Homo sapiens: one gene and its partners. The protein of the gene in region 1 purifies or fractionates together with the protein of each later gene. This does not show direct contact. Each region holds a gene or a part of one and is shown on either strand. Other genes may lie near its edges. The genes, in order: TMEM51, FAM114A2, HSPA12A, SLC39A11, CUEDC1, FNDC3A and PDCD4.

What was found.
Region 2: the proteins of TMEM51 (region 1) and FAM114A2 purify together in Homo sapiens (affinity purification with mass spectrometry; 3 studies listed by BioGRID and IntAct, with this or other methods). This does not show direct contact.
Region 3: the proteins of TMEM51 (region 1) and HSPA12A purify together in Homo sapiens (affinity purification with mass spectrometry; 3 studies listed by BioGRID and IntAct, with this or other methods). This does not show direct contact.
Region 4: the proteins of TMEM51 (region 1) and SLC39A11 purify together in Homo sapiens (affinity purification with mass spectrometry; 3 studies listed by BioGRID and IntAct, with this or other methods). This does not show direct contact.
Region 5: the proteins of TMEM51 (region 1) and CUEDC1 purify together in Homo sapiens (affinity purification with mass spectrometry; 3 studies listed by BioGRID and IntAct, with this or other methods). This does not show direct contact.
Region 6: the proteins of TMEM51 (region 1) and FNDC3A purify together in Homo sapiens (affinity purification with mass spectrometry; 3 studies listed by BioGRID and IntAct, with this or other methods). This does not show direct contact.
Region 7: the proteins of TMEM51 (region 1) and PDCD4 purify together in Homo sapiens (affinity purification with mass spectrometry; 3 studies listed by BioGRID and IntAct, with this or other methods). This does not show direct contact.

What each region holds. Positions count from the first base shown.
Region 1 is NC_000001.11:15,160,247-15,163,746, reverse strand, and holds part of TMEM51 (transmembrane protein 51), read right to left. Parts: intron 1-3,500.
Region 2 is NC_000005.10:153,989,648-153,993,910, forward strand, and holds the end of FAM114A2 (protein FAM114A2), read right to left. Parts: intron 3,464-4,263; coding exon 3,329-3,463; 3' UTR 501-3,328; downstream 1-500.
Region 3 is NC_000010.11:116,673,630-116,676,566, forward strand, and holds part of HSPA12A (heat shock 70 kDa protein 12A), read right to left. Parts: intron 2,874-2,937; coding exon 2,770-2,873; intron 1,790-2,769; coding exon 1,152-1,789; 3' UTR 1-1,151. UniProt on the Homo sapiens protein: Adapter protein for SORL1, but not SORT1. Delays SORL1 internalization and affects SORL1 subcellular localization.
Region 4 is NC_000017.11:72,844,689-72,848,188, forward strand, and holds part of SLC39A11 (zinc transporter ZIP11), read right to left. Parts: intron 1-3,500. UniProt on the Homo sapiens protein: Zinc importer that regulates cytosolic zinc concentrations either via zinc influx from the extracellular compartment or efflux from intracellular organelles such as Golgi apparatus. May transport copper ions as well.
Region 5 is NC_000017.11:57,861,413-57,864,912, forward strand, and holds part of CUEDC1 (CUE domain-containing protein 1), read right to left. Parts: intron 1,874-3,500; 3' UTR 1-1,873.
Region 6 is NC_000013.11:49,132,912-49,136,411, forward strand, and holds part of FNDC3A (fibronectin type-III domain-containing protein 3A), read left to right. Parts: intron 1-3,420; coding exon 3,421-3,500. UniProt on the Homo sapiens protein: Mediates spermatid-Sertoli adhesion during spermatogenesis.
Region 7 is NC_000010.11:110,874,928-110,878,427, forward strand, and holds part of PDCD4 (programmed cell death protein 4), read left to right. Parts: intron 1-1,038; 5' UTR 1,039-1,100; coding exon 1,101-1,143; intron 1,144-1,742; exon of another isoform or gene 1,743-1,816; coding exon of another isoform or gene 1,817-1,826; intron 1,827-3,500. UniProt on the Homo sapiens protein: Inhibits translation initiation and cap-dependent translation. May excert its function by hindering the interaction between EIF4A1 and EIF4G. Inhibits the helicase activity of EIF4A. Modulates the activation of JUN kinase.

The DNA of each region.
Region 1 (3,500 bases):
TAAAATTATTCCAAAATTAAACAAAAATTTATTTAAAGGGTCGTGGCTAGGACCATCTCTGGACAGATTAAAAACAAAATGGCTTTCTAATTTTGTTGCTATTATTACAAAAAATAACAGTCTCGAAACTAACTCCTTATACTCATTAACTGTTTTCTTAGGATAAACTTCTAGAATTGAAATTATGGTGTTTTCTAAAGCCTCTGGGCAGTCTAGAAAGAAAAGCAGAAAGAACAGGAAGGAAAAAAGCCGCCAAAGTTCCTGGCTTTGAGCAGGGGTACGAGGTAGGTGGGGGTGGAAAGTAGTTCCTTGTGACTGATGCAGTTGAAGTTGGGGTAAGGCAGCAGTAATAGGTCTGAAAAGATTAACAGAGGCTGACTCTAAGAAGTCCGGGCTTTATAGTGTTGAAAGTTAAAGAGCTTAGCTTTGGCTTGATCCTGCCAGCATAGGGAAGGGGCAAAGATTTCAGATCAGTGCATTTGACATGTTATTGATTTGTTATTTTACTTGTTGGTTTCCTACTTGACTGACTCCTCCCTGCTGCCTAATAAGGTGTAAGCTCCAAGAGGGCAGGAACTGAGCCTGTCTTAGGCACCGTTTCCCCCCAAAGCCTGGAAGAACACCTGGTCTGTAGAGAGAACGCAATGATATGGCCAAATGACTATCTGAGTCTTGTTTCCAAAATGACTCCCCCACCCACCAACTTTTTAGTGTGATAAAATGCACATAACATAAAGTTGACTATCTTAACCATTTTTCCATGAACAGTTCAGTGGCATTAAGTACATTCATACTGCTGTGCAACCATCACCATCATGCATTCACAGAACGCTTTCATTTTACAAAACTGAAACCCCTTACCCATTAAACCCTAACTCCCCATTCCTCTTCCCCCAGCCCCTGGCAACCAACATTCTACTTTCCATTTCTATGATGTCTAGATTCCTCATACAAGTAGAATCATATAGTATCTGTCTTTTTGTGACTGGCTTATTTCACTTAGCATGATGTCCTCAAGGTTCGTCCATGTTGCAGCATGGTGTCAGAATTTCCTTCCACATGGAGGCTGAATAATATTCCACTGTATGGATAGACCACATTTTGTTTATTCATTCATCCTTTGATGGATACTTGGGTTGTTTTCATATTTTAGCTATTATGAGTAATGCTCATATAAACATGGGTGTACAAATATCTCTTCAAAAACCTGTTTTCAATTCTTTTGAGCATTGATATAGTTTGGATATTGGTCCTCTCCAAATCTCATGTTGAAATTTGATCCCCAGGCTGGATGCGGTGGCCATGCCTGTAATCCCAGCAATTTGGGAGGCCGAGGCATGTGGATCACTCGAGGCCAGGAGTTCAAGACCAGCTTGGCCAACATGGTGAAACCCCATCTCTACTAAAAATACAAAAATTAGCTGGACATGGTGGCACATGCCTGTAATCCCAGCTACTTGGGAAGCTGAGGCATGAGAATCGCATGAACCCAGGAGGCAGAGTTTGCAGTGAGCCAAGATTGTGCCACTGCACTCCAGTCTGGGCAACAGAGTAAGACTGTCTCAAAAAAAGAAGAGAAATTTGATCCCCAATGTTGGAGGTGGGGCCTAGTGGGTGTTTGGTTGTTGGGAGTGGATCCCTCTTGAATGGCTTGGTGCCCAAAGATCTGGTTGTTAAAGAGTCTGCTCCCCACTCCTTCTCTCCTCTTCTCTCTCACCACATGACGCCTGCTGTCCTTCTGCCCGAGGCCCTCACTAGAAGCAGATGCTGATGCATCTGAGATGCCATGGGCTAAATAAACCTCTTTCTCTCTTTTTTTGAGATGGAGTCTTGCTCTGTCGCTAGGCTGGAGTGCAGTGGCTCCATCTCGGCTCACTGCAACCTCCGCCTCCCGGGTTCAAGCCATTCTTCTGCCTCAGCCTCCTGAGTAGCTGGGACTACAGGTGCCCGCCACCATGCCTGGCTAATTTTTGTATTTTTAGTAAAGACTGGGTTTCACCATGTTGGCCAGGATGGTCTCGATCTCGTGATCTGCCTGCCTCGGTTTCCCAAAGTGCTGGGATTACCGGCGTGAGCCACTGCGCCCGGCCAATAAATCTCTTTTCTTTATAAATTACCCAATCTCAGGTATTTCTTTACAGCAACACAAATGGACTAAGACAAGTATGCACCCAGAAGTGAAACTGCTGGATCCTATGGTTATTCGATTTTAATTTTTTGAGAAAAATGACTTTTGTTTTTTTGAGATGAGTCTCACTCTGTTGCCCAGGCTGGAGTTCAGTGGCACGATCTCGGCTCACTGCAACCTCTGCTTTCCAGGTTCAAGCGATTCCTGTGGTCAGCCTCCTGAGTAGCTGGGATTACAGGCACCTGCCACCATACCGGGTAATTTTTCTATTTTTAGTAGAGATGGGGTTTCACCATGTTGGCCAGGCTAGTCGTGAACTCCTGACCTCAAGCAATCCACCTGCTTTGGCCTCCCAAAGTGCTGGGATTACAGGTATGAGCCACCATGCCCAGCCCCCAAAATGACTTTTAAGAAGAAACTATATAAAATACTTTTTCCACCTCTGCCTTCAGCATCTGCCCTGAGTGCAGCGTTTCTACACTCAGTATTGGCCTGTGTTAACGAAGCTCTTTTACACCTTGAGGCCTTTGCACAGGCAGTTGCCTCCACCAGGAAGACCTTTGGCGGTGGCGGCTGCACCTGCCCTCCCCGCTCCCCATTTCAGCTCAGACTGCACTCTTTCTGAAAATCCTTCCTGACTCTCCAAGTTTGGGTTAAGCCTCCTCCTTCACGGGCTGTGCTTCCTCATCTTTATTCACATGTTGTTAAGGTACAATCCCTGCTGCCTCCCGTGGGGGATCAGCTCCATCGGGGTGGGGGGCGGGGGCTGACTCTCCCTCGTTCCTGGGCTCAGCGCCTGGCATACCATATGTATCAGGAGATTTGTTTAAAGTGATGGCGCCGGTGTTTAGCTACAGGCAATTTCCCCCAAAAGAAGAGAATTTGCATCTGTCACTGTTTGAAAACAATAATTACCCACAGGCAGTTCCAGTACCTAACTGCTTCTCTCCAAATTGCAGGCAGTTTTAAGGAAGCTGTATGTGAGGCCTCTTATGGTAACTTAAGAAAGTTTGAGTGTTTGTTTTGTTTTTTAAAATCATGTTCTTGCTGGGTGTGGTGGCTCACGCCTGTAATCCTAGCACTTTGAGAGGCTGAGGCAGGTGGATCACTTGAGGTCAGGAGTTCAAGACCAGCTTGGCCAACATGGTGAAACCCTATCTCTATTAAAAATACAAAAATTGGCCGGGCGTGGTGGCATGCACCTGTAATCCCAGCTACTCAGGAGGCTGAGGCAAGAGAATTGCTTGAATCCAGGAGGCAGAGGTTGCAGTGAGCCAAGATTGCACCACTGCACTCCAGCCTGGGCAACAGAGTGACACTCTGTCTCAAAAGAAATAAATAAAATAAAATAAAGTCATTTTCCCTCACCAAA
Region 2 (4,263 bases), on another chromosome or scaffold:
CTCTTCATACAGTTGCCAGAGGCCTTTATGACATGTTAACTAAGAGGCTTATTATTTTTAGAACTTTCTCATTTCTCAAATGCTTTTTAAGTCTTTTATGAAAAGAGATATCATGTGTTGTTAAGAAATAATAAAAGGGCCAGGCACAGTGGCTCACGCCTGTAATCCCAGCACTTTGGGAGGCCGAGGCAGGTGGCATCATCTGAGGTCAGAAGTTCCAGACCAGCCTGACCAACATGGAAAAACCCTGTCTCTACTAAAAATACAAAATTAGCCAGGTGTGGTGGCACACACCTGTAATCCCAGCTACTCGGGAGGCTGAGGCAGGACAATCACTTGAACCCAGGAGGCAGAGGTTGCGGTGAGCCGAGATCACGCCACTGCACTCCAGCCTGGGCAACAAGAGTGAAACTCCATCACACACACACACACACACACACACACACACAAAGAGATAATAAAACAGCTCAGTCTCTGACATTTGTGAAATATCACACTTGTTGAGTGCCCACTGTGGGTATAATTTTATTCTGGGTTTTCTAAACTGAAGAATTCAGGTTTAAAATTCAGAACACCTCTAGAAATACAGAAAAATGTCTATTTCTCAAATGGAGATATCAATAGCAACTACCTATAAAATAGCTCTCCCTCAAAAAGGTCTTTCACTAAAAACAAGTACAAAAGAAAGCATCCTTTTTCAGCAGTAGGAACCCACAAGATCTTGTTCTTTGATTACAGGATTGAAAAATTCACATTTGTACACCTAGCACTGATTTCAGATTCATAGTAATGCCATCTATAAAAATTACAATTTCACATTTCAGAGGCCTGCCAACCTGGATATCTATGCTTAAAAAAAAAAAAAAAAACTATCAAAAGCAAGTAAGGAAAATATAGCTTGTCCTTAACACATTTCTAAGGTATTATGCAAAGGAAAATAAAAATTGTTTCATAGAGGTTTCTACTTCTTTCAGATCAAATTAATAAAGTCTCTCTTAATCACAGCCTTTTAAAATCTCAATAGTAGGAAAAGACACATTTACCCTAGCAATACCTGAACATTTCACTTATTAAGGTTTTAAGTGAATTGGAAAGGCATATATTAGTAATTAGTGGTAAATCTTAGACACCAAAAATTTAAAAGGAAAATAGTACCAAAAGTGTAGCTGTTAACAAAAAACTAAAACACTGTAACTACCCCAAATAAAATAATGAAGCACATACTATCCAAAAACCATCACCATAATCCAGCAAGTTCCAAAGTGATCCCTGAATTTACCTACTCATCTGTCATGAATGTTTATGTTTCTCTATGTCTACTGGATCAAGGAATCTTAATTCTTTTTCAGTATATTTTATGTGAAGAGTAGACAATTGTTACTCAGAATTGGGCCTTTCATCATTTCACTAGTGGTCCCTAACTCCATTAAAATAAATAAATATATATGGGGGGGTGGGGAAGATGAGAAAAAAAGAGTTAGTGAGTCATATTTACCTTATGTGAGACCTAATCTAAAATTTGCCAAATTCAGGGCTGAAATCTGAATAGGTGTATAAAAAGAGTTGTTACTCTCTCCTTCATATGTATACCCCATTTCTTGAAAGAAAAACCTTAAATACATTTCTAGGTTAAGGATTTAAAGCTGCCAAACTGCCATTGTACAAGAGGCTGAACAGACAGTAGGCAGAGTGACCAGTTTCTAAACTTTGCCCTCAAGGGATACAGGTTCAGACACATCAACCAAGCTTGAGGCAACAATTCAGAACTGGTGACACCAGCCTTTGTAACCAGAAGGCAACTGTTTTTCTGAAACTTCAGAAATATTCAAGCTGGAAAGGGTGAAATTTGTCTTTAAAAAGGAATATTCAAAAACTTTCTGATCATATTAAGACAGAATATAGGCAGAGTAACATTGTAGTGCTGTTGGTATACCTTTTTAAACCAAATTTATTTCTCTTCCTTGCTTACTAACTGACTCCTGCCCCAAAGAAGATTACGTAGAAACAGTCTTTATACTAATCTATGTTATGGCTTTGCTTTGCTATTTTTTTTTTTTTTTTTTGGTCTAAGTAAGATATTAGGGCTCGTGTTTACAAAAGTAAATGAAAGGATCAAATAACATGATTAATACATTTTATTACAAAGGTTTTAGAAGATGAGGGGCAGAGCTAACAAATTACCTTAATCATTAAAAAACCACAAAGTTGGAGAATTTTTTTAAAAAGAGTGGATACCAAAATAGCTTTTAGGAAGACGACAGCTTAATAGTCTCTTAAATTGCTGAAGAGAGCAAAAGAAAGCTTAAGATCTGGAGGATAAAAGTTATATCAAAAACATGCTAAAGAATACATTAAAACAAACAAAAAGGAAAGAGGAAAAAATAAACTATGCCTTAGAAGTTAAATCCTATCATAAATGAACATCATTTCTAAAGGACTATGGCCCACTTCAACACTCAAACAAAAAAATCCTCATTGCTAAAACAGCTTCAACATTCCTTTGGAGTTTGCTGTTAAAGAATTTATCCTGCATATATGGTAGACACGAAACACATCCTGAAGAGACTCAGAATATCTGCAAACATAAAACTGCTTCTCTAAATTGCATTTACTGGCCTTGAATCCAGTAGAGTAGGGTTCAGCTATGACATGAAGTGTGTCATCCTGGGGAGGGGGAGCAATTTGAAGAAAAAGGGCACTTTGCTACAGTTAATTCACATGGCTATAATAGTCTACAAGTTTCTCCTCAATGCCAAATATCTACTAAGAATTTAAAAAAGCAGATGAAACTTTCTATTTCCAAGAATTCATGTGATAAAGGGTAATCATCACAGAGTTTACATATGCTCAGTTTTCTTAAAGCCATAGATTTTATTCCAGAAAGGAGAAAGTACATGGCATTAATAAACCACACATGCCATGAATTTTAGAACACTAAATTATTTTTCTCTGGCTTATCAACCAGTTATATCCATGGGCTGCAAATTATATCCATGACAAAATTGATAACATTTTGCAACATGTCAAAGAAAGACCAACATTTTTGCCTGAGTGTCCCACTAATCTTTATCTAGAGTTATTATTCTTGGACTTTCTACAAAAGTTTCTTTTCAAATAATTTATGAATTACAACAACTGGAAAGAATACTGTGAGAACCTGAATACTTCAATCAAACACTGAAGGCAACAATCTTCCTCTTTAAACCATCTCTCCTGCCTGAATTTTTATATACTAAAATAACCCCACTCCTTCATTTCTGCAGGAGTAGCCAGAATAAGGTGGCATTCCTTGGCCGTCACAAGTCCCAGGTCAAAACGTCTCCATTCTTCAATGTTCTAACAAAGGTTTCTGGCCCTGCAGCTCATGTCTGTGTGATTCAATCTTGTTCTCAATGAGAGAGATCTCTAGCACAGGTAAGAGTAGCTGAAAGGCGTCCTGGATGTAGGAGGCACTGTTTGATGCCTGCCAGGATTGAAAAAACAAGAAAAAGAAAATATTAGTTATTTAAAAGAGAAGATATACTGTAAGGCAACAGGGGAACAGATTAATTTTTGTAATCTAACTGAATTCATAGCCTGGCAAGTAAGAGCAGTGACTTGGCCATTTTGGTAAACTCTATTATAGGGAGAAGAATTTAGCTCTTAAGATGATATGAGCACCAAAAGAGAATGTCAGCATTTTGTACAACTTGCCCATCAGACATGGTAGCTTTTCTTTGGCAACATGGTCAGACTTGGCATTCAAAGCTTATTTATTCCTTTATTGAGTAGGGTAGATTCTGTCACAATATTGTGGTCAATTACTGAAAGAGGCTTTCAGAAGGCTATAAATCCTACACCTATAGAATTTCTAGCCCATTATGATAGCTCTTTTTCCATGGACTCAATGCGATCAGTGAGCACAATAACTGCTCACACACATAAACATCTTTCACACATATACTGCTTTCAAAGATGACAGTATAGATATATTTCTATCTTGAACAACATTTTTCAGAAGTGTTAGAGAATCATTACCCTCAGTTTGCTGGACTTCATTTATACTGAAAAGCCCTCACCTTTCAAAAGAATATCAACAGAGAGCTCATTAAGATAAAAATGTATAATTTCGAAGACAAGAGTGTTTCAAATCTGTATCCAAAAAAAAAATCCACTAAAAATAATAGGGAGCCCATATCAAGTGATATTACCTTTTTAAAATTTATCAATGGCAAGTACTATTTAAAATTCAGTGTGACATTTAATACTCAATTTCCCACACAA
Region 3 (2,937 bases), on another chromosome or scaffold:
GATGCAGGCGAGCCACAGGCCCGCTGTGAAAAAAAACTGACTTAATACATCAAGTATAGATCTACAAATTATTTTTAGAGAGACTTGAAAAACTGAAGATTTTAATGAAACATTGCATAGCACAGATTCTCTTCCCAAATTTCACCAATGTATTCCTTTCAAAATGTGGAATTAAATGGCCAAAACTCTTAGGGAGATGAAGGTGAGTGGGAAGGAGGGGGTTAATTTAAAATCTGTCTGCTTTTCAAGGTGAGGGGCTCTTCTGGATGTCTGGTCTTGGTGATGCAAACAAGACCAATGGCAACCTCATTTTCTTACCCAGAATTCCTACTAAGGTTCACTAGAATTACTTATGAACTCAGAAATCAGGGCTGGGCATGCTGGGAATTTATGTCACAGCATATAATTTGGGATACGTCAGTAACTCTTCACTATCTGTTTCCATCATGGCAAGTTTTCACCTGCTAAGAATGTGAGGTATCAGCTCTCCTACTCACAAAAGCCCTAGTGGATTACCCAAGGCTACGGTTATTCTTCCCTGAACCTCCTTGCTGTTTAAATGATATGAGAATCTAAAACAGTGCCCAGTGTAGGCAGCCTTCTACCACCAGCTAAAAACATTCCCAGTTCCCACTGAATCACCACTTTTAATCACATGATGAGGAAAAGAAATTAACTGCAGATGGGTGGCATTTTATATTGATGGCCATCCAAAAAATTTAGAAAGACAAGTCTCAGATGAAGATCTCCTCCTGGTTCAAAGATCTCATTTTAAATCTAGAAAGACAGCAATAGGGCATCCTAAATTCTACATAACGGAGATCTGTTCAAAGCAGCGCAACCACTGCTGCAGAAATGTACTGATTCCCTTCTCCGTGGCCATTTCACCACTTTTGTACCTATGAAAACTAGCTGCTCCTCCAGGATCCTTTAATTTTCTATGCCTAAACCTTAATCTTAATTTCTGTTTTTCTGACTCCAGTGTGCCCTCAAAAGTCACTAATTATTTCTAGCCCTGATTGTTCTCATCTTCCCTGCTGAAATTCACATGGGCAATGGTGAGGGTCAAGGTTAGGGAAAGAACAGTCAAGGTTGAGGTCAGCAGATGCAGATAAGTTGAGTCCAAGGGGACAGGCAGCGGGGCGGGAGGGTTAGTAATTTAAGAAGTCGATCCCAACTTTGACACTCTTCGAAGTGGCTATATCAATGGCTGTGGCTTTGATCTCGGTGTCCCCGAACTGCATAAGGGTCTGGATCTCCCTCCGGGCGGGCACCGCAGTGCCACTGGTCCCTGTGAGATCCAGGCGGAGCGTGCCACACTTCTTCACCCCGGGATCAGTGATGAAGCTGACGTTGTCGTGCTCAGAGCTGTAGATGTTGATGACAATGACCAGCTGGGAGGGCTTGGCCGGGGTGTAGCTACGCTTGACCAGCTCACCCAGAGCCACAGACTGGTCGGCAGAGATGAACTTGTCAAAGACGTCGGTGCACCACCGAGTGCCATCCTTCACCAGCAGCTTCTCAGGCGGGTGCTTGCCCTCCACGTAGCGGTTCAGCACGCCTACCCCGTAGGTGAGCGGCGACCGGCGCACCTTGATGACCGCGGGGTCCAGGCCAAAGAGGACGGCACCCTTGAGGATGGTGAGGCCCACGTCCTGGGGGATGATGATCCGGCACTGGTCCCCAAAAGCAGCCTGCACCGCCTGCTGCAGCAGGGGCGCCTCGGCAAAGCCGCCCACCAGAAAGAGGAACTTGACGGTGGACACCTCGGGCTTCTGAAACAGGTCCCCTGGAAGGGAAGAGGCAGGGAGAATGTCCTGTCACCAAAAGCCAGCAAGGAAGGGGGAACTGGGCTGCCTGCATCTGTGGGGAACGGATAAAGCCACTTGGGCCACTGGGAGGGCAGGCTTACTCTGAGCTCCTTGAACAGAATCTTTGCAGAACTGGTCTTTTAAAGAAAGGGAGTTTGCACACCAATATGTTCCGGAATAAAAGCCAGAGCTGCTGCTAAGTAGAAATGCATTTTAACAGATACATGGTGATAATTTTAAGTAGAATTTGGTTTGCATAAATGAATACTCCTAAAGCTCTCCAAACCTGTGGTTCTGTTGGGTAAGTCAAGGCAGGTTGTTATAAATAGAATTCTCTGATTTTCATAAAAATCCCATTCCACTCCTAGAGAGTCTGATTTGGTAGGCGGGGGACAGGATACTGAAAGAGGTCCTGGTGAGTTTGCTATGTGTCCCTGGGTACTGCCACCAATGTAGCAGGAAAATGACATAGCCAGATTCCATTTGCTTGCAGAACTTCCTTTGATTCACACAACAGTTCCTTCTCCCCTAGCAGGGTGAGGATGTCTAACATGTCCCAGTAAAGCAAAGAATATGCATTTCCTAGGGCCTGCCACTCTCAGGTAACATTGCCTCAGAGCTTCCAGCTCTCTGATCTTTTTTGTTGTTTTAAAGTTTTGTTTGTTTATTTAATTCTTCCTCTTTGTCATTACCAGCTCTCTGACTTTTGAGGCCAAACGGAAAGCTTGGGTGAGACAAGCTCTCAGCAGCTTTGCAGTACGAGGAGAGGGATCCAGAGCCTATGCCCAGTAACCTCTCCCATACATGCCCAAGCCCTGCCCAGTCCTGCAGGGCCCTTGCCTGTGGCTCCCAGATCCAGGCCAACCTGACTCCACAGGCACCAGCTGGTGATGCTGGGAAAGCCCATCCCCTTTCTCAGCTCTGCCTCGCCGAGTGGCCGAGCCTGGCTGATACTTACGGAGATGCTCAATGATGCTATCGATGGTCGGCTTAAAAAGGGCGTTCATGGCATCTGGACTCATCCGCAGCATCCCCTGCGAGGACCACTTCACAAAATCCACACTGCAGGAGCATAGCATGGAGAAGAGCAGGCAGTGAGGGTCTACACGATACCCAGGCTTATCTG
Region 4 (3,500 bases), on another chromosome or scaffold:
AAAAAACATTCATGGGCCAATGATTCAGAAATCTATAACTCTAGCTAGACTTTGCAAGCCAACTCCAAACTCATGTATCCAGCTGTCTAGTCAGTATCTCCATTTGAATGTCTAATGGCAATCAAACCTCACAATCAAAAAACAAATTCCTGATAGTCCCCCTAAAGCCCCTGGAGCTGCAGCCTTCCTCGTCTCAGTTGATGGCAATTCCATCCCTGCAGCTGGGCAGCCCTGAAACCTCCGGGTCCCTCCTGGCTCCTCGCTTTCTCTCATATCCCACATCCAATCCATCGGCAAATCCCATTGGCTCCACCTTCAATCGGGACCCAGGAAGGGATCCCTTCTCACCACATCCAGCACGACCACCTTGGTCTGCACCACTATCATCTTTGATCTGGATTCTGCAGTGGCCTCTACATAGGCCTCCCTGCTTCCATCCTTACCTCTCCTAAGTCCCATCTCAATTCAGTATCTAAAGAGAAACAAACTTTCAAAGCTCAAGTCAAGTCATACACACCCTCTTCAAAACTCTGCAATGGCTCATCACACACAGAGCAAAAACAAACATTCTTATGCCTCCAAGTTCCATCTAAAGGAGGGGCTGACATCCCTGCCCTCACCTTGTACTTCTCTCCCTGCTGCTCACCCTGCTGTGGCCACAGTGGACTCTTGGCTACTCCTTGTGGGGGCCAGACATGCTCCTGCCTCAGGGCCTTTGCACTGGCTGTTCCCTCTGCCTAAAACACTCACTGTTTCCCAGAGATCTGCATGACTGACTCAAATTCAAGGACATCTCAAGGAGCCCCTCCCTACCTACTCTATTTAAAATGGCAATTTCTTCCTCTAACACTCTACCGTCTCCTCTGCCCTGTTGAACTTTTTCTTTTTTTAAATCACTAACCACCTTCTAACACAATATAAAATTCATTTATTATGATGATGTTCATCGACTATCTCACCTTGCTATAATATTGGTTATAGAAGGCCAGAGATCTTGGTCTGTTTTAGTACTGATATAACCCAAGTACATGGAATACAATACTCAAATATAATAAATAAAAGACAAGACTGGGAAAGAAATGTCCCTTCAAACCTCTCCATCCAGTCAAGCCAGCTGTCCTCCAGTTTACTGAAACCAGTGACTATTACCACCATGCTTCTGGTGAAATCTAACTCAATTGAGATTCCTGGAAGGCACTCAATCCTCATTTCAATTTATTTTTTATTTTACTATTATTTTTGAGACGGAGTCTCGCTGTGTCACCCAGGATGGAGTGTGGAGATAAGAGAATCCATCTTTCAAACCAATGAATCTCTCTCTCTCTCTCTCTTTTTTTTTTTTTTTTTTTTTTTTTTTTTGAGACAGAGCCTTGCTTTGTCGCCCAGGCTGCAGTGCAGTAGCATGATCTTGGCTCACTGCAACCTCTGCCTCCTGGGTTCAAGTGATTCTCCTGCCTCAGCCTCCCAAGTAGCTGGGATTACAGGCATGTGCCACCACTCCCAGCTAATTTTTGTATTTTTAGTAGAGACGGGGTTTCGCCATGTTGGCCAGGCTGGTCTCAAACTCCTGACCTCAAGTGATCCGCCCACCTTGGCTTCCCAAAGTGCTGGGATTACAGGCATGAGCCACTGCACCTGGCCTCAATCCTTATTTGAAAAAATACTTTTGCATCACCATAGAAGTGACAAAGGCTGAACTTAGACTTGGAAACTCCAAAGACACAGAATAGGGTCTCCTGTCAGGGAAGAAGTAAGATTTTAATTTATGCTCATTTAAGATCATCAAATATTGCTGTCATTCCACACATCTTCCTCCTGTTTCTGGCTTTATTCCAAGTTGTCACTGGAGTCAACAAACATTTGAGAAAGTAAACTCTGAACCATCCTGGCCTTCCATTGGGATGAGCCAGGAAATAATTCCAGCTGAGCATAATGAATCACCCAAGTACAGTGGCAGGTGTGGTATATAAAAGGGTCCATTAGAGGAAAGTTGGATACTCATTCCATTGCTATAAAGTCTGGACCTTAGACCACATTTTTGTTCTTCAGAGAAATAGTTGCCGTAATACACCTCAGTGTAGTTACCTTATTTAACACTAAACCCACTGGGCAGATCTTTACTCTTCCTCAATTGGCTAAAGAAGGGGTCATAAATGGCAGAAAGACAGCTACTATTATGAATGAAAAACAAGTAACCTCTCTTCTCTAACTATTAGCACTTAACAGGCTACAAGTTGCTGTCAGGGCTCCTAAGTAGTCCTCTGCAGGGGACCAAGGGGTCTTTCAATGACCTCTTTAAGATACGGGGTGGGCACGAGCAGGGTCTTCCACCAAGGCTAACCCACTTTGGCCATCTTTGTGCAGTGAGGTCCATATAAGACCCCATCTTTATCTCAAGACATACTGAATACCAAGATCTAGAAAACCAACAGGGTCAGATGCTGTGGCTCATGCCCGTAATCCCAGCACTTTGAGAGGCTGAGGTGGGCTAATCACTTGAGGCCGGGAGTTTAAGACCAGCCTGGCCAACATGGTGAAACCCCGTCTCTTCGAAAAATACAAAAATTAGCTGGGCATGATGGCACACATCTTTAATCCCAGCTACTCGGGAGGCCGAGACAGGAGAATTGCTTGAACCGGGAAGTGGAGATTGAAGTGAGCTGAGACTGCACCACTGCACTCCAGCCTGGGCGACAGAGCGAGACTCTGTCTCATAAAAAAAAAAAAAAAAAAAATTGGAAAACCAACTAAAAAAAGCTTATTCATAACTCAAAGAAAAGGGTCAAGAGGGGAATGAGGGAGACACATAAACTGATGAAAATGTTGGGAAAACTGGCCTACCTATGATCGTATGATAGACATTCCTAAGATTAGGATAGAAATAACAGAGGAATGTGCTTCTTATCTAGAGAAATATCTGAGCTTAAAAAGTAATTAAACACATAGTGCTTTCGGCAGATTTAATATATACTAGAATATATAATATGTATTAGAATTTTCACACTTTAAAGACGACAAAAAAAAGTCTTCATTGTGCAAGCAAAACAATATCAAGTTATACAGAGGAACAGACTCACTTTGGCCATGCTTTTTGCTTCCACAATACTAAAGCCAGAAGACAAGGGATCAACATCTGCAGAAGCTTTGTAGAGAAAAATGTCATGACTAGAAAGCTTTGCCCAGCCAAGTTCTTGCTCCTGTATTAGAGTAACAGATTGGCACCATGAACTCTGCAAGGACTCAGAAAATGTATCACCCAAGGATGCTCCCTGGGGAAGATTATTGCTCAAACTCGAATTCCCAAACAACAAAAGGTGGGTCAGCATGTTTAAGATCTCAAGATCGAGGAAATCATGGCTGAAAAGGCAGCAGGAGTATCATCGATGCCAACAATGCGCTCGTAAGTCCCAAGCACTGTACTGAAAGCTGTATGTATATTTAGCATCTCATTTAATTCTCTAAGTAAGCCACTTGTGGCATTATCCCCATTTCTTAGATGA
Region 5 (3,500 bases), on another chromosome or scaffold:
GGTGCAGCGGTGCCGCAGGTGTCACCTCGAGAGTGCAGTCGGAGAGCGCCGCGGGTGAATGGGCCAGGCAAGGCAGGGGTACCCTAGGGATGCGACGCGGGGCTCCTGGGGACAAACCCTGCCCCAGGCCGGGAGGGAGGAGGGAGCAGGAGGGTCCAGCCCACGCCGCTGGCCACATCAGAGCACCAAGAGAACACCAACTGTTTATTACAGGAATTCCTATGAAACAGCTCCAAGAAAAAACCCACACATAGGAGGAAAAAAAATAACAAAGCAACACTCAACAGACATGGGGCTGGGGCTTCCCCCACAGTGCGCCGGGTCCTGGCGCGGGGAAGGCTCAGAGACCCGTCGAGAACTCGAGCTGGGGTACCGAGGCACTCCTCGGAGACCCCCCCCCCTCCCTCCAGGGCCCCAGGCCTGGCGCGGGGAGCAGCGGAGGGGGCGACCGCTCCTCGGCAGGGCCCCCCGAGCCAGCGTCCCGGCCCCGCGCGCGTTTCCAAACTTGGTCACGCTCGGCGGCGGCTGCGCGTCCCGGCCCTCCCCAAGCTCGGCGTTGCGAGTCCGGGCAGGGTGGGCGGGACGAGGTGCGATCGCCGGCTCGCCTTCGCTACGCCCTTGTGATCTTGGGGCCACGGAGGCCACCAGGGCCCGGCCAAGGATCGGATGCCACTCCCAACCTCCCAGAGCCGCGCCGAAGCCTCGTGCCTGCCCAGGCTTCCCGGCTCTCCGGAAGGTCTGCGCGCTCCCATGTCCAGGGCGGGGCCACGGGCTGGGCAGCCTCCCTCCCCGTGGCAGTGGTCAGTGCCGTGTAAGCGTTCCTAGAATCAGAGTTCTCCTCCTCAGATCACCCGCCCTTCTCAGGGGCACCCAGCAAGCCCTTATGCCCTAGGCGCTCACCCAGGCTGGCGGCCTTTCCGCCTTGCTCTTTAGCCCTGCACCTGCTCAAAGGGGTCACTCCAGGACCCACCGCTGCCCACCCTCGGACAGCAGGGCTTCCAGTCCAGCTGGGGAGTCAGAGCCCCTGTGAGCCCCTACTGTGGTGTGACTCCAGAACTGGCTTTTGTCTGCTGCCAAATTAAAGACCCTGCCTCCCCAGAGTCCTCCAGCTCCAGGGTGGCCACCCTCCCCATCCCTGCTGGGTGACCGGGAGCTGCTGGGAGTGAGCCCATCCCTAACAGCAGCAGCCTGATGAGGCCAGACGGGGCAGGGCAGTCGGCAGATGCTTTGCAGTAGCCCATAGCTCCTCAGAGTTCCTGGGGGACTGGCCAGGGACCTCCCACCCAGGCTGGGTGCAGGGCTCGTGTGCTGGGCCAGCAGCCCCGGGGGAAGGCTGAGATACAGGAGGACATGGAAGGGAAGGGCACAAGTGCCCGGAGGGAGCTGAGGAAGGGGGACCAGAAGGGAGCTGAGGAAAGGGGGTCAGGCAGAGTCTGTGACAGGAGAGATAGAGAACGGACGGAGGCAGAGACTCCACCTTCAGGCCAAAGAGCCTCTGGTGGGGGTCATCTTGCCCTTTTCCATATTCCAACTTTTATCTGCTTTCTGGATTTTTTTTTTTTTAAAGGGAGGTTGGTTCCTGCATTTCCACTCTTTGACCATAGGAACGCCTGGCTACAAAAGGGGCTGTAATTGGCTGCTGCCTATAGGGGCCCCAGGTCCTTCCTCCAATTGCAAGGCAGCAACTCCGAAGTTCTAAGTCCCATGGAAAGTGGCAGTGGTTGGGCTGGACTGTGGCTGGAGGATCACCGGGCCTCGGTTCTCAAGCACCATCTGTCTGGCTGCAGCTGGGCCCTTCAGCTGGGGGCCAGTGTTGCTTTCCAGCTGCCCCCACCGGGTCAGATCATCTCTGGCAAGGAAGAGCTGCTGGCATCTGGTAGGGGAAAAAAGGGATGGGAGGAATCTTTTTCAAAGGAGCCCAATGGTCTTTCCTGGTCACTGGTTCCTGGAGAGACAGTTTTGGGAGAAGTTACTAAAGACGTAAGCCCTCTCCTTTTTCCAGGGACTCGAGGTCAACCGTAGAACTCTGCCTGGGTCATCCCCCCATTCAAATTCCTAGAACCATTCCAGCTTGCCCAGCTGCAGGGACTCTGGCAGCAGGAGATGGAGTGAAGGAATGGAATCCCGGGGTGAAGCAGCTGTAGGGGAGGGCTTCAACGTGGGAGGGTACCTGGCCCATTCTAATACGTCATAGCTCAGGGGAGCTAGGCCACAAAGACCTGTAGGTGGAGAAAAGTAAACTGGGGGCAGAACTTGGTAGGACTCAGACACCAGGCTGAAGAGTTCCTAAGACTTTACTCAGAAGACTCATTCAGGCCAGGCGCAGTGGCTCACGCCTGTAATCTCAGCACTTTGGGAGGCTGAGGCGGGCCGAGGTCAGGGGTTTAAGACCAGCCTAACCAGCATGGTGAAACCCCGTCTCTACTAAAAATACAAAAATTAGCCGGGCGGGGTGGCACGTGCCTGTAATCCCAGCTACTCGGGAGGCTGAGGCAGGAGAATGGCTTGAACTTGAGAAGGGGAGGTTGCAGTGAGTGGAGATTGCACCACTGCACTCTAGCCTGGGCAACAGAGCGAGACTCCATCTCAAAAAAAAAAAAAAAAAGAAAGAAAAGAAAAAGAAAAAAAAAGATTCATTCAAAGAGCACAGGAAAAATGGAACTAAAGTGGTGTTTTGGTGGTGGGATAATCAGAGTAGGTAGGGGCAGTGAAGAGAACAGGGCTGTGACCTAGGTGATGAGCATCTATCAGGGTGGTAATGGAAGGAATAGAAAAGAGAATGAAAGGGGGCAGTCAGGAGGAGAGACTGAGTTGCTATCCAAGGCTGAAAAGAAAATCTTGGGTGCAGCTGGGGACACGAAGCAGCTCTGGAAGCCTAACTGCGATGGAGATTCAGATGTAGGAGCCAGATGCGCAGAAGTGTTGCTGGTGCTATAAAAGAGGGCGGAGGCACTGCCAGAGTGGGCAGTGAGAAGACTTCGAAGAGGGTCAAGGGCAGAGCAACAAGGAGAGCCAGTATTTAGGGAGTGGGCGGAGCAACAGGAGCCAGGAGAGAGGAAGGAGAACCTGGCTTCCTGGGGTCACAGGAGCCAAGGGAGGGCAGCTTCAGGAGAGATCAGGGGAGTGCGTGTGGAAGAGCACCATAAGAATGCAGAAGATGCTAAGGCCCTGAGCTGCTGGGTGACCTCCGAGTCAATCCGAGTGATGGGAGGGGCTGTCAGCCTGCAGTGGATGAAGGAGGATGGCAGGGAAGACTCAAGGACCCTTGGTGTTTAAGGGGAGGAGGAGGAGGATGTCAACTTGCAGAAGGAGCTGGAAGGGGACAAGCTGGAAGTCCTAGGACAGAAATAAATGATGAGGTGCAGGTACGGTGGCTCACACCTGTAATCCTAGCACTTTGGGAGGTCCAGGCGGGCAGGTCACCTGGGGTCAGATGTTCGAAACCAGCCTGGCCACATGGCAAAAATCCATCTCTACTAAAAATACAAAAACAAATTAGC
Region 6 (3,500 bases), on another chromosome or scaffold:
TCCCTTATTTGACTATCAACTCCCTAAGAACTGAATCTATTTTAATCACTATTGTTTCCCTGCACTTAGCATTGCCTGTCACTTATGCTCAGTACATTTGCAGAAGAAATAACTTCAAATACAAAATTGAAATTACACAACACAGCCTGTAAATAGTGGATATATTGTACACATCATATGTATTTGTCAAACTTATTTCTATTGCCCAAGTAATGCAAATTGGTTCAGTAGCTCTGGGTAGTGCTTGAGATTCTGCATTTCTAACAAGCCCCTAGGAGATGTTCATGCTGTGCTCCAAGGAACATACTTTTGAGTACCAAAAGTTTATACTGCAGATTAGTCTCATCCTATTTTTGTTTACTGCTAATTATGACTTAGTTTTAAAAATATTAATTTTTTCTTATAATCTGAGAAAACTATAAGAAAAAGCTAGTATTACAATTATTACTATTTTGCATTGTTAAAACCCCTTGTTATTCTGTAGGGATATGCATTAGAATACATGGATGTGATCTACATTGATATGAAGGAAAGTGAAGGGCACAAATCCACAAATTAGCTACCCAGTGGTAAAAGGGAGGAGTCATGTTGTACTTGAGGTTATAAGCCAGAGATTCTACCACTAAATGCTAATTATTGACAGTACTGGTTTTCTAACCAATGGCTATACCTCCGTGATGTCCTTTCCATGCACAATCCATATGGATTCTCAAAGTGGAATCTGATCCAGCATTTCACTGTTAGCAGTACCATTAGTGAGCCTGAACCTTGCTAGGCACTATGCTCACACATGTATTATCTCACTTAATTTTCAATAAAATTCTGCAAAATTCAAATGAGGAAACCGAGGCTCAGAAATGTTAAGTAATTTCTGCAAGGCCACACTGCTAGTTAATTGCTCAGAATTTTAACCCTCTCAGATCTATTCAATGATTAAGTTCCTTCTCTTTCTACTATAATATATTCTTTTTTCTCTTCCATGGTAGCTTTATTATTTTGAATAATAGATAAAGCATTTTAAAGTATGTACTAATTGATCTAATTGATTGCAGTTGCTATTTTTCTTAACTTTTTGTCGAGATATAATTTAGGTAACAGTTCATCATTTTACACTTCAGTGGTTTTTAATATATTTACTTTATTGTGCAACATATGCAACTCAATGTTTTCTATATTCAGTATGTACTGTATTAAGTACCACTGTCTAATTCCAGAACATTTCTATCATCCCAAAAAAGAAACTGTGCATATTAACAGTCAGTCCCAACTCTCTGTTCCTTCACATCCCATGATCTACTTTCTGTCTGTATGGGTTTGCCTATTCTAGACTTCATATAAATATACATATAAGTATTTCATATAAAAATTTCATTAAAATGTTCATACAGTATGTAGACTTTTGTGTCTAGTTTTTTTTCACTTAATGTCATGTTTTCAAAGTTCATGTTCTCACATATAATAGTACTTCGTTCCTTTTTATGGCTGCAATAATATTGCATTCTGTTGATTACATTTTATCACTCATTAGCTGATGGACCTTTGGGTTGTTTTCACTTTTTGTCTATGAACAATACTGCTGTGACCATTTGTGTAAAAGTTTTTGTGTTGACATATTTTCATTTCTTCCGGGTATGTGCCTCAGAGTGGAATTGCTGGGTCATATGTTAATTCTATATTACTTTTCCACAGTGACTACACCATTTTATATTCCTACCAGCAATGTATGAGGGTTCCAATTTCTTTGCCAAAACTTGATATCGTCTGTCTTTTGATTGTAGGCATCCTGAATAAATTTCTCTCTCATTATGGTTTTGATTTGCTTTTCCCTAATGCTACTAATGTTGATCATCTTTTCATGTGCTTATTGGCCATTTGTATATTTTCTTTTCCTTTTTTTTTTTTTTTTTTTTTTTGAGATGGAGTTTCACTCTTTTTTTTTTTTTTTTTTTTTTTTTGAGACAGAGTCTCGCTCTGTCGCCCAGGCTGGAGTGCAGTGGCATGATCTCGGCTCACTGCAACCTCTGCCCTCTGCCTCCCAGGTTCAAATGATTCTCCTGCCTCAGCCTCGCGAATAGCTGGGATTACAGGTGCGCGCCACCACGCCCGGCTAATTTTTTGTATTTTTAGTAGAGATGGGATTTCACCATCTTGGCCAGGCCGGTCTTGAACTCCTGACCTTGTGATCCACCTGCCTCACCCTCCCAAAGTGCTGGGATTACAGGCGTGAGCCACTGCGCCCAGCCCCATTCATATATTTTCTTTGGAGAAATGTCTATTTGAATTCTTCACCCATTTTTTAAATGGGTGGGATATTTGTCTTTTTATTGTTGAAAGGTAAGAGTATATATATTCTGGATACAAGTTCCTTATCAGATATATGATTTCCTCCCTTGTTGTTTTTTCACTTTCCTTGTGGTATCCTTTAGTGCAGAAAAGTTTTTAATTCTGATGAAATCTAATTTTTTCTTTGATTGCTTGTGTTTTTGGTGTCTCGTCTAAGAAACTATTGCCAAATCCAAGGTCATAGAGACGTGTTTTCTTCTAAGAGTTCTATAGTTTAATCTCTTACATTTGGGTCATTGATTCATTTGAATTAATTTTTGTATATGGTGTGAGGTAGAGGTCCACGTTCATTCTAATGTTATTGTACATATCCTTATAATACTCATTTCAAAAATACTGTACTAATTTTCTTAAGGCACTGCTAAATTAAAACTTTTTACTGAGGCTTTTAAAAAATATTTTTCTCATCACAAATTTTAAATTTAAAAAACTCTGGGGACAATTGAATTAATATTTATTGAGCATAATGACTTAATTATGTTCCTATGTGACTTTTATTAGAATGAGTGGATTCTTCTAAATCACAACCTTGAGTTTATAGTATCTGAAGATACATTATATGTAGATTGTTATTGTTAAACAGTCTAAATCATTTCTTTTGGCTAACTTTTTTTCAGTGATGATTGCTTTTTTGAGTTATAAGGGAATTTAGGCAGGCAGTGGTTTTCTTTTTACCTATTTTATGTGTTTAAGGTTCAAAAAGATGTGAAAAGTAATAGTTACTAAAGAGTAAAAGAAAAAGAACTGTGGACTGCTCAGCTCCAGTCTCATTCCTCACCTACAATAATCATAAGTTACCACCAAGCTGTTTCTATGGAGATTAATAATTAGTTGAGAACAGAAGGAAATAAATCTCTCTGTAAATTTACTTGAGAGAGAGATATATATAATTAGAATAAATCACAAAGCTTGGTTCTGATAGTTTATGGAGACACAAAGGTTGCTTTGTTATGCAAAATTCTTTTAAATATTTTATAAAAGTTTTATATGATAGATTTATTTTCTGTTCTTTTTTCATGGCATAAACTTATTTGGAGAAAGTGATCTTCTTAACATTTTGTTTTTATTGCCTCCTAGATGCTCACTCTACACATGGAAGGTCCAACTTTAGAGATGAACGATCTAGTAAAACATATGAACGTTTGCAGAAAAAATTG
Region 7 (3,500 bases), on another chromosome or scaffold:
GGCATTTTCACTAATTTGTGCATTTTATATCTCTGAAGAGCACACTGCTAGCAACCTGATTGTAAATGACCAGAAGGACTTATATCCAACCTATGTGACTTAAACATACACTTAAGTACTCTAAACCACTATTTAAAAAATACTTCTAGAGAGATTCTGAAATCTTAATTTGGTTGCACTTTCTGGTAATATATTTTTTGAAAACTATTTTGATATTTCTTTCATATAACATTATTGGATCTGTATCACTAAGTTAATTGTCTAAAAGGTAACTGATTTCATCAAACCTTCCAGTATTAATAATTTTTAAGCCATTTTGAAACTGAGGCCTAAAATACTGAAATGCTTATGTCGTTGTACTTACTCCTTTCTGAAATGATCAGATTTTTAAAAAATGGATTTCTCATATAAATAATATTATCAAAAAAGGATTTCTCATATAAATAATATTATCAAAAAAGCTGATTTTAAAAGTTTCTCCCAAAGTCTTATTCTAGTAATTATAGAGACCTAGGTAATGAGTGGCAGATATATCTGCCTTTCAGATATGCCGTAATGTGAAAAATAACACAGTCATGTGATATTCTTTATTAACTAAAACTGTGTTGTTTTTATTTTGGAGTAGTTCTCATAATTCATTGGTAGGGAACTATCCAGTATTTATATTCCTATGTATGTATATCAGATTAATTTTGAGGCTTGGTATTCCTAAAAGATTTGGATGTGTGTATTTCTTTAACTTGACGTAAACATGTATCACAAACATATCTTTTAATTCCAATTAAAGGGGTGCTTTGGCACATGCTGAAATCTGGGATTTTTTTTTTTGACTTTGATAAATTTATCAAAAAGATTGGAACCAAATGTTAATTAGGGTAAGTTGTCTTTGAAAGTAAAGTGAACTGTTTTATTTAATGGAATTGTGTGTTTTTTGTTGTTGTCGTTTGTTTTTACAGTGTGCTTAAGTAAGTTTAATTCAGCTTAATTACATCAGTTTAAAAGATCTTGAAGCTTTCTTTTTTTCTTTTAAAAAAACAGATTCTGAAGGAAGATTTCCATTAGGTAATTTGTTTAATCAGTGCAAGCGAAATTAAGGGAAAATGGATGTAGAAAATGAGCAGATACTGAATGTAAACCCTGCAGGTAAGTAAGGATATCCTTTTTTCTTTTTTTCTTCGTTTTGAGACAGGATCTTGCTCTGTCACCCAGGCTGGAGTGCAGTGGTGTGATCATGGCTCACTGCAGTTTTGACTTTCCTGGGCTTAAGAGATCCTCCCCTATCTCAGCCTCCTCAGCAGCTGGGACAACAGGTGTGTGCCACCACACCAGGCTAATTTTTTATTTTTTGTAGAGATAGGATTTCACTATGTTGCCTAGGCTGAAATATCTTGAAGCTTGACTATGTTGTGAGGAAGCTTCAGACCATTCCATATTTTATAAAAACATGATAGAAAAACTATCTTTAAATACTCTTTTATTCATGCTGTAAGAAAACAGGCTATATTATTTTTAAAGTCAAGTTTGTGATTTTTATTTTCATGGAAATTCATTACATGTCCTATTTTTCTGCCTATCCTTTCACATTCCACATATTCCTATTCTCTGTTATATAGTACAGAATAGAGAAGAATAGTGAGCCTGCTTATTTTCACATGGGCTAGTTAGTGATTTCTGTAATATAAACTTACTGGTATCTTTGGTATCTTTCCTAACAAATAATTTTTATATTCTAAATTACCTAGGGTATTTTCCCTAATTCTCCATGGTGCTTCAATAGCATGTTATTATCATAAAAATGAACAGTTTTGTGGAATAGATGACCAAATGTGAGTAACTCAAGATAATTTAAAATGTATTTATAGTTTTAAAAATAATCTCCCAAAAAGTTAATTAGAATTGTGTAATATCTGAATAGTGAGAACAGTTCATATTGGTATACTTTGGATAATTCTTTGTCTTATAATTTTATTAATATTGAAAGCTATTTTCTGTCATTTTAAGTGTATTTCGTAACTAAATACTACATCTTTCTTTCCTCAGTGACTTAACTCACTATTGTTTACAATGTACATAGTTTTCTTTGATCTGAACAAACATGTTGAATTTGAAGCTTCTTTACCATTGTTTATTTACAGATCTTTTTAAAGTATGGTAAAAAATTGAAAAAAATTTATGTAATTAATGATCATTTCTGTGCTGCTGTATACAATAGCTGTATGAGTATGCTTTAGGGTTATAAATGGATAATATGTACCTACTTAATTGAGATGGGGATGGTAATACAGTTTAGAATATATTTTACATATAGGTAATTGCTTCTTTTCTGCACTGTCCAGTATGGTGACCACTAGCTACATGTGGTTATTACTCCTGGGCTCAAGTGATCCTCCCTCTTCAGCCTCCTCAGTAGCTGGATTACAGGCGTGTGCACCACTGTGCTTAGCCACATGTGTTTGTTGAGTACTTGAAATGTGGCTACTCTGAGTTGAGATGAAGGTCAACTATCTCAATAATTTGTTATATTGCTTGCATGTTGAGATGATATGGTTATATTAGATTAAATAAAATATATTTAAATTAATTTCACCTGTTTTTACTTTTTAATGTGGCTACTGGAAAATTTAAAATTTCTTATATGGCTTGCATTCTATTTCTATTAGAAATAGAAACACAGCTTTAAAATGTGTACTTTTTGTTTCCTAACTACAATAAGACCTAGTTCTAACCCTGTTCTTGGTGCTTGTGTCCAGCACTGCTTTAAAATAAAAGACTTGTTCTTCAATATTTGAATAGGCCTAAGATAGACCCTCTTTGTAGTAAATTCTTCACATAGCAAATAGTCCAAGTCACACTCTTACTCTTTTACTTGGAGGAAGTAGGTTATTCTGACCTTCAGTTTTTTCATGTATAAAATTGGGATATAAATACCCTCTGTATAGATTTATAATTAGGATTTAGTGAGATATTGTATATGTGTGTTAAGTCTGTGAAGCACATACTAGGTATGTAATACATGAAAGTGTGGTAATGTTATTCTAATTATGCCACTCATTGGACACCAGTAATTGAAAATGTGATTTTCTGGTGCTGTGGTCATATACAATTGGAGTGGTTACTATTGAGATATCAGAATTCAGAAAGAGGGAATTAGTACACAGTAGGAAACAATTTTGAAGTCAATCACATTCTGTACTCAGCTTATCATTTTAATTTTGGTTTTCTTAAAGTCAGCTCAATAGGGGTTATGGAACTCCAACAGTTAGGTGAGTATGAGTAACAAAATATAAAGCAATTAATACAAACATGGGTTAAAAATGATAAGGTCAAATATATAAATTATACTGAGAGAATGTTTACTGCTGCAGAGACACAAACATACTTGAAAGGATGTTAAAATTGTTGAAGAAAAGAAAACTCGATTATGGGAAATAGATGTATTTAAATTGAATACTCCAAGGGACAGTTTAAGACATTTTATTATAGTTCTGACTCCTGTGTCT